2 separate regions of the Homo sapiens genome follow, and region 2 is linked to region 1. Evidence: fine-mapped expression QTL. A gene starts in region 1. The other region holds a variant in brackets. All regions are shown on one strand. Distances are from middle to middle. Region 1 holds the start of FGF17 (fibroblast growth factor 17). Region 2 has its middle 120 kb from the start of GFRA2.

The links.
Region 2: its variant is fine-mapped to the expression of FGF17 in caudate (GTEx, PIP 0.96).

The regions. Positions count from the first base shown.
Region 1 is chr8:22,040,493-22,045,860 of GRCh38, forward strand. It overlaps FGF17 (fibroblast growth factor 17), which reads left to right and starts at 2,328. Exons shown (of 5, transcript NM_003867.4): 1 at 2,328-2,471; 2 at 2,653-2,689. The coding sequence starts at 2,437. RefSeq lists enhancers at 3,086-4,323, 4,596-4,645, 5,339-5,368.
Region 2 is chr8:21,667,473-21,672,840 of GRCh38, forward strand. No RefSeq gene overlaps it. Among named protein-coding and RNA genes, the nearest start is that of GFRA2, 120 kb to the right of the region's middle. The variant TG/T (reference allele first, on the strand shown) is at 2,367.

The sequences.
Region 1 (5,368 bases):
CCTGTGACACAGGCCATCCAGCCATGCCCAGAGCTAACCCCCTGGCTAAGCCCCGAGGCCCAGCTTGACTGCTGGCATCTGTTACCATGGAGACCCAGGCTGGCCTGAGGGCTGGGCCAGTGATGGCAGGCCCTGTCCCCATGGATAGAAACAGGTGCTTGGGCTCAGAGGCCTTGAGTGGCTCCCACTGTCCCCATGGCCAGTGAGTCCCGACAGCATAAATTGGAACCGTTACCCACCTTTCGCCCCCCAGCTGACACCTCCACCAACCCAAGGCCTGAGCTGTCCCCTCCACGTGTCTGTGCTCTCTTTAATGCCCTGCCTGGGGGCTGGGAGTGGTGAGGATGTGGATGTGAGGTTGAAGGTTTCTCAGGGAATGAGCCAGAGCTGCCAGAAGAGGCAGAGTGTAACCCAGACTGCAGATGATGGGAAGAACGCGGAACAGAAGTGACCTGAAGGATCCGCAGGGGGAAAGCAGAGAGGTGGGCACGCGGGCACCTGGTACCTTGTCCCAGCCATGCCACCAGCTAGCTGTGAGGCTTTGGGCGAGTCCCTTGCCCTCTCTGGCTCTCATCCAAGGAATGAGGAAGTTGGAACAAATGATGAATCCCTAAGACCCCTTCTAGGTTTGACATTCTTTGAGTTGCATTCCAAAACCCTGGACTCCCCCAGGTAAGCAAGGCCAGGGCTTGCCCCATCCTCCCCACACAAGCTCAGGCAGCACCCACTCCTGGGCTGGGTTCCCGAGGAAGAGCCTGCGGAGAGGAGACCCCGGAGCTGCCTGCACTGGTCAGTGCATGGGGGCAGGGGTGGCAGACCACTTTGTGGATTGATGGAGCTCAGGAAGGTGAGAAGGGACCCACAGGTGAGAGTTTCGCTCCCCTGGTCATCTCTTTAGGTAAATAAATCCACATCCGCCACTTCCCCTTCCCTTCCCACCCTGGGGGCGCTGAGAACTCCAGGGAGCCCAGAGCTGAGGCCTGAGCTCTGCTTGCTCACACTGGGTCTTCCCTCAGAGACCCCCAAGCCCTCCTATCTTCTGCAGTCACCGTCATCCACTTTTCTGTAGGGAGGGAACAGCATGGAGCTCTCTGTTCACCGGTCTCCAGGACCTCGGATTCCACCTTTAATCCTGAAAACCCAGGAAGGCTTCTGTATCCCTACAATGAAGCAGGTTTGGGGCTGGATCTGCAGGGTGGCAACTCAATCCATGCAGAACAGAAGAAGCATGGACTTTTCCATTCTGGCTATTCCATTCACTAGCTGGGCCATTCTGAGCAAACTACCTCCCAATGTGCCTCAGTTTCCTCATCTGCAAAATGGGCTAGTCGCTGGCATTGTACCGAGCAGTATGAGACCGGAGGTCATGGGAAGAGGCTGGTAGGCACTTCATCCCAGGCAGCTGCTCAGGGACATGGGACACAGGGAGGGGACTCCGAGCTGCTCCTAGCTCAGAGAGGCTCTAGGGACAGGCACTGGAAGGAAGGGGATGCAGAATGGTGAGTGGAGCTGGGTCTCAGAACACAGACATCTTGAAGTCTGCTATGTGCTGATTTCACACTTGACCCCCCAACACCCTGAGGCATTACTGTCCTCATTTCTCAGATGGAACTACAGAGGCCCAAGGAAAAGGGGCTTAGGCCAGGACACCCAGCTCTTCTCCAAGTGTCTGTCTCAGGCTAGCTTTTGCAACTCTCCATTGGGATTCTTCCTAGATCTCCATCTGTACCTGCCAACCCACCTCTGACCCCCAACCTGTTGCGCCCAGTATTTGCTGCCGATCAGGACAGCCTTAACCCCTCCTTCCCGGGCAATCAGCTGCTCCAAGCCAAGCCCACCCCTGCCCCCTGGAGGGAGGCGGCTCCTTTTAAGGCTGCTTCTGGGAATTTCCACTCCAGAGCCAGAACCAGAGACCCCAGCCCCACTTGACACCTGCGGCTCACCCTTGGGGAGGTGGGGCGCCAGACCTGAGTGCAGGAGACGCAGACCTGGAAGGGCTCCCCCTCCCTGACCTGCCACACATCGAGTTTGTCTGCGTCGAGTTTGGCCAGTCTGTGAGGGTCAGGAATAGAGCAGGAGACAGCAGGGCCACCTCCTTCAGAAGGCCCCCACCGCTCCATCCCTGCACTGGGTGGCCCAGGAGAGACTGGCAGCCCAGAGGGCACAGCGCGCACGCCCCCACCCGCATCTGCTTTGCAGCCTCACTGGCCAGGAAGGTGGACACCTCATACCTCAGTCTCCCAATTACGCCCTCCTCCTCCCCCTCCTCCTCCCTCTTTTCTCTCCTCCTCCTCCCCTTTCTCTCCTCCTCGCCCCCCTGAAAACCTGTGGCTCGGAGAGACCTTGGCTTCTCTGGGACTCTACCCCTGGGGACTTCCCACATCTGCTCCTGAGCTTGGGGGCAGGGGGGCAACCGCCTGAGGAACCTCTCCAGCGATGGGAGCCGCCCGCCTGCTGCCCAACCTCACTCTGTAAGTGTGCTACCTCTCCCACTGGAGTTTCGTTGCCATTTCCAGCCTCAGGGCAGCCCTCCTCTTCCCGGGACTCCCACGCGTGCGTGCACGGGGCTGGCAGGGCGGGGGCGGGGGCCTGGGTGCACCCTAGGCTTGCAGCTGGCACCCACACCTGGGCTTACCTCCTCTCCCCACACAGGTGCTTACAGCTGCTGATTCTCTGCTGTCAAACTCAGGTAGGCGGGCATTCCCACCGGCTTTCCCCCAATTTTTCCACCCTACCTGACCAGGGCGGGTGCAAGGGACCGGCTCCTTTCAGGTGGACAGAGGCAGAGTCTGGCCTCTCCCTGGGTCCAGGAGGCACTGAGGTTTGGAGGGGAGTGAGCCTTTGACCGGGTGGGCAGGGAAGGGGGCTGACTGAGGTTTTGTCTCTGTCCTCCCTCTGAGGACCCTCCCCACTTCCCCTGGGTCTCTGCTCCTCTTCCTCCCTCTCCATCGGGTTCCCCCAGACTTGAGGGATGGAGCCTGGAGCGGTTGGAAGCAGGTGGAGGTGATGGCTCAGGTGAGGCTTGGGTTTGCCAGTACCTGAAAGGACAGGTTTTGATGCAAGACCACTTGTATGTCCTTCTCGCCACCCCACTCCCATCAATATGGATGCCTGGGGTGGGGGTCTCGTGAGCATGTCCAGAATGCCTGGCCAGGGTGAGGTGACTCCTCACCTAGAGGGCACAGAGGTCAAGCCCAAAGAGGTTTGTTTGGGACGGGATGCAGGGTTCGCTTCTCCACACTCCCCCCACCCCAAGTCGGCCCCCCACCTCCCTCCATGCACACCTCCCACCCCCAAGTCTCAGCCCCCAGTGCGAGGCTTGCTCCCTTTTTTGTGATCCTCCATAAAAGTGCAGCTATTAAAATGCACTGGTCCAGAACCGCTCTGGGGAGAGATCGCTTGGCTTTCCCAGGCCAGAGGCCCGCTTCTCTTCATATCCAGTGGGGACTTTTTTTGAAGGTAAATGCCTTTTCTCTGGGAGAGGGAAAGGGGCAGCCTTTGAAGCAGTGGGGGGGTGGGAGAGGGAGAGACAATTCCCCCCCCCTTCCTTCCCCCTTTTGCTCCAGCCCCGTTCCAGGCCTTTTGCTTCACACATCCAGGGGGAGCCAGAAGAAAGCCCCCAGCCTGGCTGGGAGGGGGCTGGGGGTGGGCCCAACCTGTTCTGGAGGGGAACTAGCACAATGGTGCGGCTGGCCGGGCGTTTATGGCCTGGCTGAGGCCCCATTCAGGACTCAGGGAAGGTGGCAAAGCGGTCCTTTCCCCCTTGAAGTGCCCCCTCACCCCCCTGGGAGGGGGGGCCAGCAGGCCGGACCACAGCCATGCTTGAGGGGCTGTCTGACAAGCAGCTGTCTGCAGTGGTGGAAGGGGAGGTCCTCCCGCAGCGGGAACATGAAAGGGACAGGCTAGGTCCCGCGGGGAGAGGGACTTGTGGGTTGTGGGCTGTGGGGGGGCGTGGGGCTGCTTTTGTGAAAAGCTTGAAGGGGGACGAGGAAAGGAGGGGGCTTCGGGGGGGCGCTTTCTGCTCCTGACCTGGAACAGACTGCCAGAGGAGGCCGTCGGCCAAGAGGGGCGGAGGGCCTGAACCTGGGCCAGGAGGCGGGGCTGGGATAGGCAGGACCCCACCCCCTGGAAGGGAGGCCAGCGTGGGGCAGGCTGGGCAGGTCCCCCACCCCAAATGCTCCAGGGTGGGGCGAGGGGCAGGTCTTGCAGAGGCTAGGCAGAGGCTGCTCTATGGGGAGGTGCAATTGGAAATGAGCAACGGTGCACAGTAAGTGTTAACCCCGCGCAGGTTAAATGTCCAGCTCTGAGAGCTGCTCCCTCACTCCCCCTGCCTCAAAGGTGATATTTCCCACCCCCTCCCTAGGAGAGAGTAGCCCCTAACAGATGCTAATCTGGGTCTAGCTCTGTCCAGATGGCTGAGGTTGGGCCTGGGATAAAGGTGGAATTAGGGATTTGGGGCAGGGGCTGAGAAAAGCTGTCCCAGCACAGGCAGCGGCATCCAGGTGGAGACAAAACCAGCAAAAAAGGTACATTCTCATGCTAGAGCTGAGGCTGTTGCCAGGAGCCAGGAAACCTAGCCCGGGTCGCACCTTGCAGGATGGAGGGGAAGAAGTACTCAGTCTCTCCCACTCAGCCTTACAGATGGGTAACGAGAGACCTAGCTGGGAGGCGGTACTCCTCCTGGCTTTGCACAGTGCGTGGGGGGAAATGGTTCCTCTCCCCCAACCCAAAGGGGAAGCAGGTGGGCGGGCGCATCCCACCAACTGGCCAGGAGCCTCTGTTACATTGTGGCTAAGGAGCTGCCTGCCAGGGGCAGCCATTGGGCCACCGCTGATAGTGCCTGTCCTCTTGGTACTGCCTCTGCCTCCCTCCGCTAAGGAGGCACCTTGCCTGCCTGCTGTCCCATAGTGCCCAGCCCCAGCCCCAGCCCCAGCTCCAGCCCATAGAGGAGGGAGGAACACTGGAAGGGCCCTGAGCACCAGGGGGCAAGGCCGGGAAGAAGATGGGTATGAGCTCAGGATTCCACAGTTAGTGCTTCAAAGAAATGCTCATGGGACCCTGCAGGAGCTTTCAGAGTCCCCCACATGCTCTCTGGTGACCCTAACTCGCAGCACCATCTGCTCTGTGCCCGTGTGCTGGGCAAGGGGTCTTTCAAGGCCAGTGGGGAGGATGAGGAAGGAATCTGGTTGTCCTGGCTAATGGAGCATGTCCTTGGAGTTCTGGGGGAGATGACAGGCTCTGGTCTAAGAGGTAGGGACAGGGGTTCTGTCCCTAATGAGCTGTGTGCCCCGTGCACCTCCTTCATAGAATACGAGGACGGGATAGAACCCTGAGGGCTCCTTCCAGCTCCCAGAGTCCTGATTCCAGG
Region 2 (5,368 bases), 370 kb before region 1:
GGCTTCTCCTCACCATGAATGTCTGCTGGAGAGAGATCCCAGTGCTGGGCAGCAGGCCAGGCAGGAACCAGAGCTCCAGCTGGGAAGCCTCTAGAGATGACCTAGGGCAGCTTCTCATTTGCCTGGGGAGGAAACTGAGGTTGGCAGAGGAGAGGGGCGGTGTCCCAGGTCTCATGGCTACCTTTACTCCCTCCTCCAACATTATTGTTGCCATGGGCAACAGGACCTGCAAACAACAGTGCATATGGGTCAAGGGCAGGATCCAGGCAGGGCAGGGTGGTGGAGAGACATGGAGCTACCCTTGCCAACACCTCCACCCAATACCTACCACAGGCTGGGGTTTGGCAAATCCAATCTCTGTCTCATAATTCCCAGTTGTTAGCAGCATGTCAAGAACCCCAAGTTTTTCCAAGACAGGCTCTCATTAGTCCTTTCGGACTTCAGGGAGACGCAGGAAGGAGATACACATTGTCCTCTGATACAAAAAAAAAAAAAAAAAAGCAACAAACTGGAAAATCAAGGCCAGGAAAGAGATGGGGCAAAGGGCTAAGCTTTAGAGGCCCCGTGCTACCATTGAGCTAGGTGGCCAGCATTCGTGGCTCAGAGCACAGCTCTGCCACTACCTTGTCCCTTGGGCTGTGGGTCCACAGAAAGCCTGGTTAGAAACTTACTGGGCCCAGGGCCCTCCTGGGTCCTCCTGGCAGCATTCTCAGCCAGCCAAGTGAGTTAAAGGGCCAATGCTTGGTGCCAGCTCCAAACAAACATCTCCCTAACTTCTAGATAGCCTCTCAGAGACAGCCTCAGACTCTCTCAAAGGACCAAGACCAGCCTCATATCCCCTGTACCCACCCCACGGTCATGATATGGGTTACTCCCTGCAGTGCTCCATGGAGATTAGCTGCATTGGGGCTCAGAAAACAACTCCCCAAAATGAAGGCTTCAGAAACAGCCTCAGAAGCAAAAGTCTTTCTCTGCCCTTCTCCTGCCCTCCTGCCTTCCGGTCTCATTCTCCCTCGAGGCTACCCAGAGACACTAGAATCCTTCTTCCCCAAGCTGGGTCATAGAAACCAGGACCCCTTTTCTTCAAAGCCAGCCATAAAACCTAAAAATATGACTCTAACTTTCCCCCTGCCTTTCTTTGTAGACACTGGCCATAAGGAAATTACCTGACCTACCTTGTTTGACTGTAGGTCATGAGACCCTCACTCCAGAGAAAGCCTGCCACACACCCAGAAGGAAGGAAAGCTGCTCAAAGAGGCCAGGAAGAATCTAGACAGACAGGCCTCGCTGGGTTTCCTACTCAGTCTGTTAGTATTATATCAGACTCTTTTAGTCCAATCATATCTCTACACAGCTGTCCATCCTTTGTTGAACCGAAGCTTAAGAATGGACAATTTCCTCTGTATCTTTGGGTCTTTATTCTGAAGGTTTCCATGTACACACATTAAATAAATTTACATGGCTTTTCTCCAACTAATCTGCTTTTTGCAAGTTGATTTTCAAGAAATCTTTACAGGGCCAGAGGGAACTTGGCATGGCAACCCCTATCCAGCTCTCAGGCCTAGGTTTTCTTACTACATTAGCTCTTACAAAAGGGGAGGGAATGTTTCCTGGGAGGGGAGGAAGCACCAGAGGGATCTCTTTTAAGCATCTTCCATCAGTTTTTCCTGAATGAGGTTTGGGAGTGGGGAAGGAATATCCATTGGAACTATCAGGATTCCCTACAGAGGGAGGAGGAGGAGTTTGAAAAACTGTCTTCAAAATTATAGGTCTGGCTTGGTGGCTCACGCCTGTAATCCCAGAACTTTGGGAGGCTGAGGCAGGCGGATCACTTGAGACCAGGAGTTTGAGACCAGCGAAACCTTGTCTCTACTAAAAATACAAAAATCAGCTGGGAGTGGTAGTGCACACTTGTAATCCCAGCTACTCAGGAGGCTGAGGCATGAGAATCACTGGAACCTGGGAGGCAGAAGTTATAGTGAGCTGAGATCACGCCACTGCACTCCAGCCTGGGCAACAGAGTGAGACTCTGTCTCAAAAATAAATAAAATAAAATAAATAAAAATAAAGATTACAATATACAGTTGACCTTGAACAACACGGATTTGAACTACACAGATCCACTTATACACGGATTTTCTTCTACTTCCGCCACCCGAGATAACAAAACCAGCCTCATCCTCCCCTGCCCACTCAACCTGAAAACGACGAGAATGAAGACCTTTGTGATGATCCACTTCCACTTAATGAAGAGTAAATATATTTTCTCTTTCCTATTTCTTAACATCTTTTCTCTAGCTTACTATATTGTAAGAATACAGTATGTAAAACATATAACATAGAAAATATTATGTTCGTTGACTTTA[TG/T]TTATTAGTAAGGCTTCGGGTCCACAGTAGGCTGTTAAGTTTTAGAGGAGTCAAAAGTTATAAGTAGAGTTTTTACTGTGTGGGGAAGTCAGCACCCCTAACCCCTGTGTTGTTCAAGGCTCAACTGTAATTTTATATTTTAAAACAAAAATAAATGTGCCATTTTTGTACTCTAAATTGTGGAAAATAAAATCTGACAAAATACTTTGGCTTGCTGGAGACAAATGCCCAACAGCACAGTGCTCCTCTGGGGGTGGGAGCCTGGCCTCGTGGGGTCAGGGTTTCAAGGGGAAGGAGTGGACATGGGGTCAGACTTGGACATGGGGTTTCAGGTTTGAGGACCATGACACTGTGAGTGTTGGGACCTTCACAGGGATCGTCTCTTCTGATTGGCTCCTTGCAACCTCAGTGGCATCAAAAGCATGAGCTTCAACAGTTTCCCAAACTTCCCAAACCACAGAATAACCTCATGGCTGTGGGGAAATGCGCATTCCTCGGTCCCACCACAAACATGAGCCGGAGACTCTGGATTCATTTTGACACACAACCTATGGCACTGTTCTAATCTGGCCAGATTGTAACACAGGTTTCTAAGTCACGTAATATATCTGTATTCATCAAATTCCAAATTCCATACAAAGATAAACCCAGAGAATCCAGGCTCCTGCAGCTCCCTAACCCTGGCCTGCTCTACCACAGAATACCCTTCGATCCACTTGTTTATCTTCCCCATGTTTCTTTACGCAAATGCAAGCACAAATGAATATACATGTATATATTCTTATTTCTTATATTTCACAAAAGATATACTATTTATACGTTCTGTCCCTCCCTCTTTCACTTAGCAAACTATCCTGGGACTGTCTACATATCCATACATGGAGATTTTCCTCTTTCTTTCTCTCCACTGCAGAGTTTTCCACTGGGTAGATGTGCCAGGACACTTCATGCAGTCCCCGGTGCACAGACGCTGGGTCCTTTCCAGACTTCTGTTATTATGAACAATGCCACAATGAATGACTTTGTACACATGTGATTTCATACGTGTGCAGGTGTACCTGTAGGATAGATTCCTAGAGTGCAATTGTGGGTGGAGGGGTAAAGGCATCCATGATGTTGTTGGACCTTACCAACGTTCCTTCCATAGAGTTCTTCCATGTCACGCTCTGCTTGCAATAGCAGAGATCACATCATTTTCCACAATTTTGCCAACACTGTGTTTTGTCAAATTTTTGTATTTTTGCCCAATCAGAGGGATGAGAAATGGTGTCTCTCAGTGTGGTTTTGATTTGCATTTCTCTCATTAGGAATGAGTTGCACATCTATTCCATTCCAATGATGAAGGAGCATTTGCATTTTTTTTCTGTGAACTCAACGTTCACGTTCTTCACTCGTTTTTCTTCAGTATCACTTGCTTTTTGATTCCACATGTGGTGTTTTGGGCATGCAGAAATCATTTTTATTTTTATATAGTCAAAATTCTTCATTTTTTTTTTAAATGGAGTTTCACTCTGTTGCCCAGGCTAGAGTGCAATGGCGTGACCTCGGCTCACTACAACCTCCGCCTCCCAGGTTCAAGCAATTCTCCTGCCTCAGCCTCCCGAGTAGCTGGGATTACAGGTATGAGCCACCATGCCCGGCGAATTTTGTATTTTTAGTAGTGTATTTCTCCATGTTGGTCAGGCTCGTCTCGAACTCCTGACCTCAGGTGATCCACCTGCCTCGGCCTCCCAAAGTGCTGGGATTACAGGTGTGAGCCACCGTGCCTGGTTTGAATCATAGAAAGTCTATCCCCATCCAAAGTGAACTCCAAGTTTCCCTGCAGCATTATTAGGTTTGCTTTTAATGTTTAAATTGTTGCTCCATGTGGAGATTTTCCCCATGCATGATATTAAGTACAGAGCCAATTTTATCTTTTTCCAGAAATGGCTACTGTATTGTTCCAATACCCTTTATTAAGAATTCATGTTTACCACATAGATTTGAGATGCCATCTGCCTCTCCGTATCACTTCCTAATTCTTACATTGCTTCTGGGCTGTCTTGGTCCTGCTGTTCTACCCCTTTGGTGTATCCATCCATGCCAATGCCACGCTGCTTTCACTATCCAGGCAATAGTACTTCCAAATTGTCGGGTAGGGCTAGTCTCCACTCATTAGCCTGCTGCTTTTTGTTTTTTAAGATATTTTTCATATTTCTTGCTTGTTTCTATTCCCATATAAACTTTCAACTACCTTGTCTAGTTCCGAGGGAGTGGAGCATGGGGGAAAACCTGTAGGTATATTACTGGGAGTAATATACTTGTATAAATTACCTAGGGAGTACTGACTTCTTGGCAATATTGTCTTCTCATTCAAGGAGGTGGTCTGATGAGGGAGAGGGAATTTGTTCTAGCTGCAGGAGGGTCTCGAGGCTGGGGCAGGTGTGTGACAGGAAACGGTGTGGTTTGTGTTTAACCTGAACTCACCGCGGCCATCCCTACTATAATAGTATTTAGTGGCCAAAGTTTACCCCAGTTTTTTCTAGTTCCTCCTATTATTTGAGATTTTGTACTGACATAAGGGGAATTGAGGAAGTTTAGCAGGACACACTAAACATGTGATCTAAGTTCAGAATCTCCTGAACATCCGTTTAGGACTGGTCTTGCTCAGCGTTACTGTAGGTGGTTTGGGGAAGCAAAAGGAGAACAAAGGAAGTCAAGTTACAAGTAAGTTTAGCGTGTGCTTCCTATAAGCTAAGACAAAGGAGGGGGAGTTGCAAGGATATAGATCCTCAAACACCCCAGGGCATATAGCCGGACTCGGTAGCTTGCAGCAGCTTAATGCAGGGTGTCTTAGTTCATTTGGCTGCTACATCAAAATACCTTAGACTGGGTAATTTATAAACAACAAAATTTATTGCTCACAGTTCTGGAGGCTGGGAGGTCTGAGGTGCCAGGAGATTGAATGGCTGGTGAGGGCCTGTCCCCCATAGATAGTGGCTTGTATCTGTCCTCACATGGC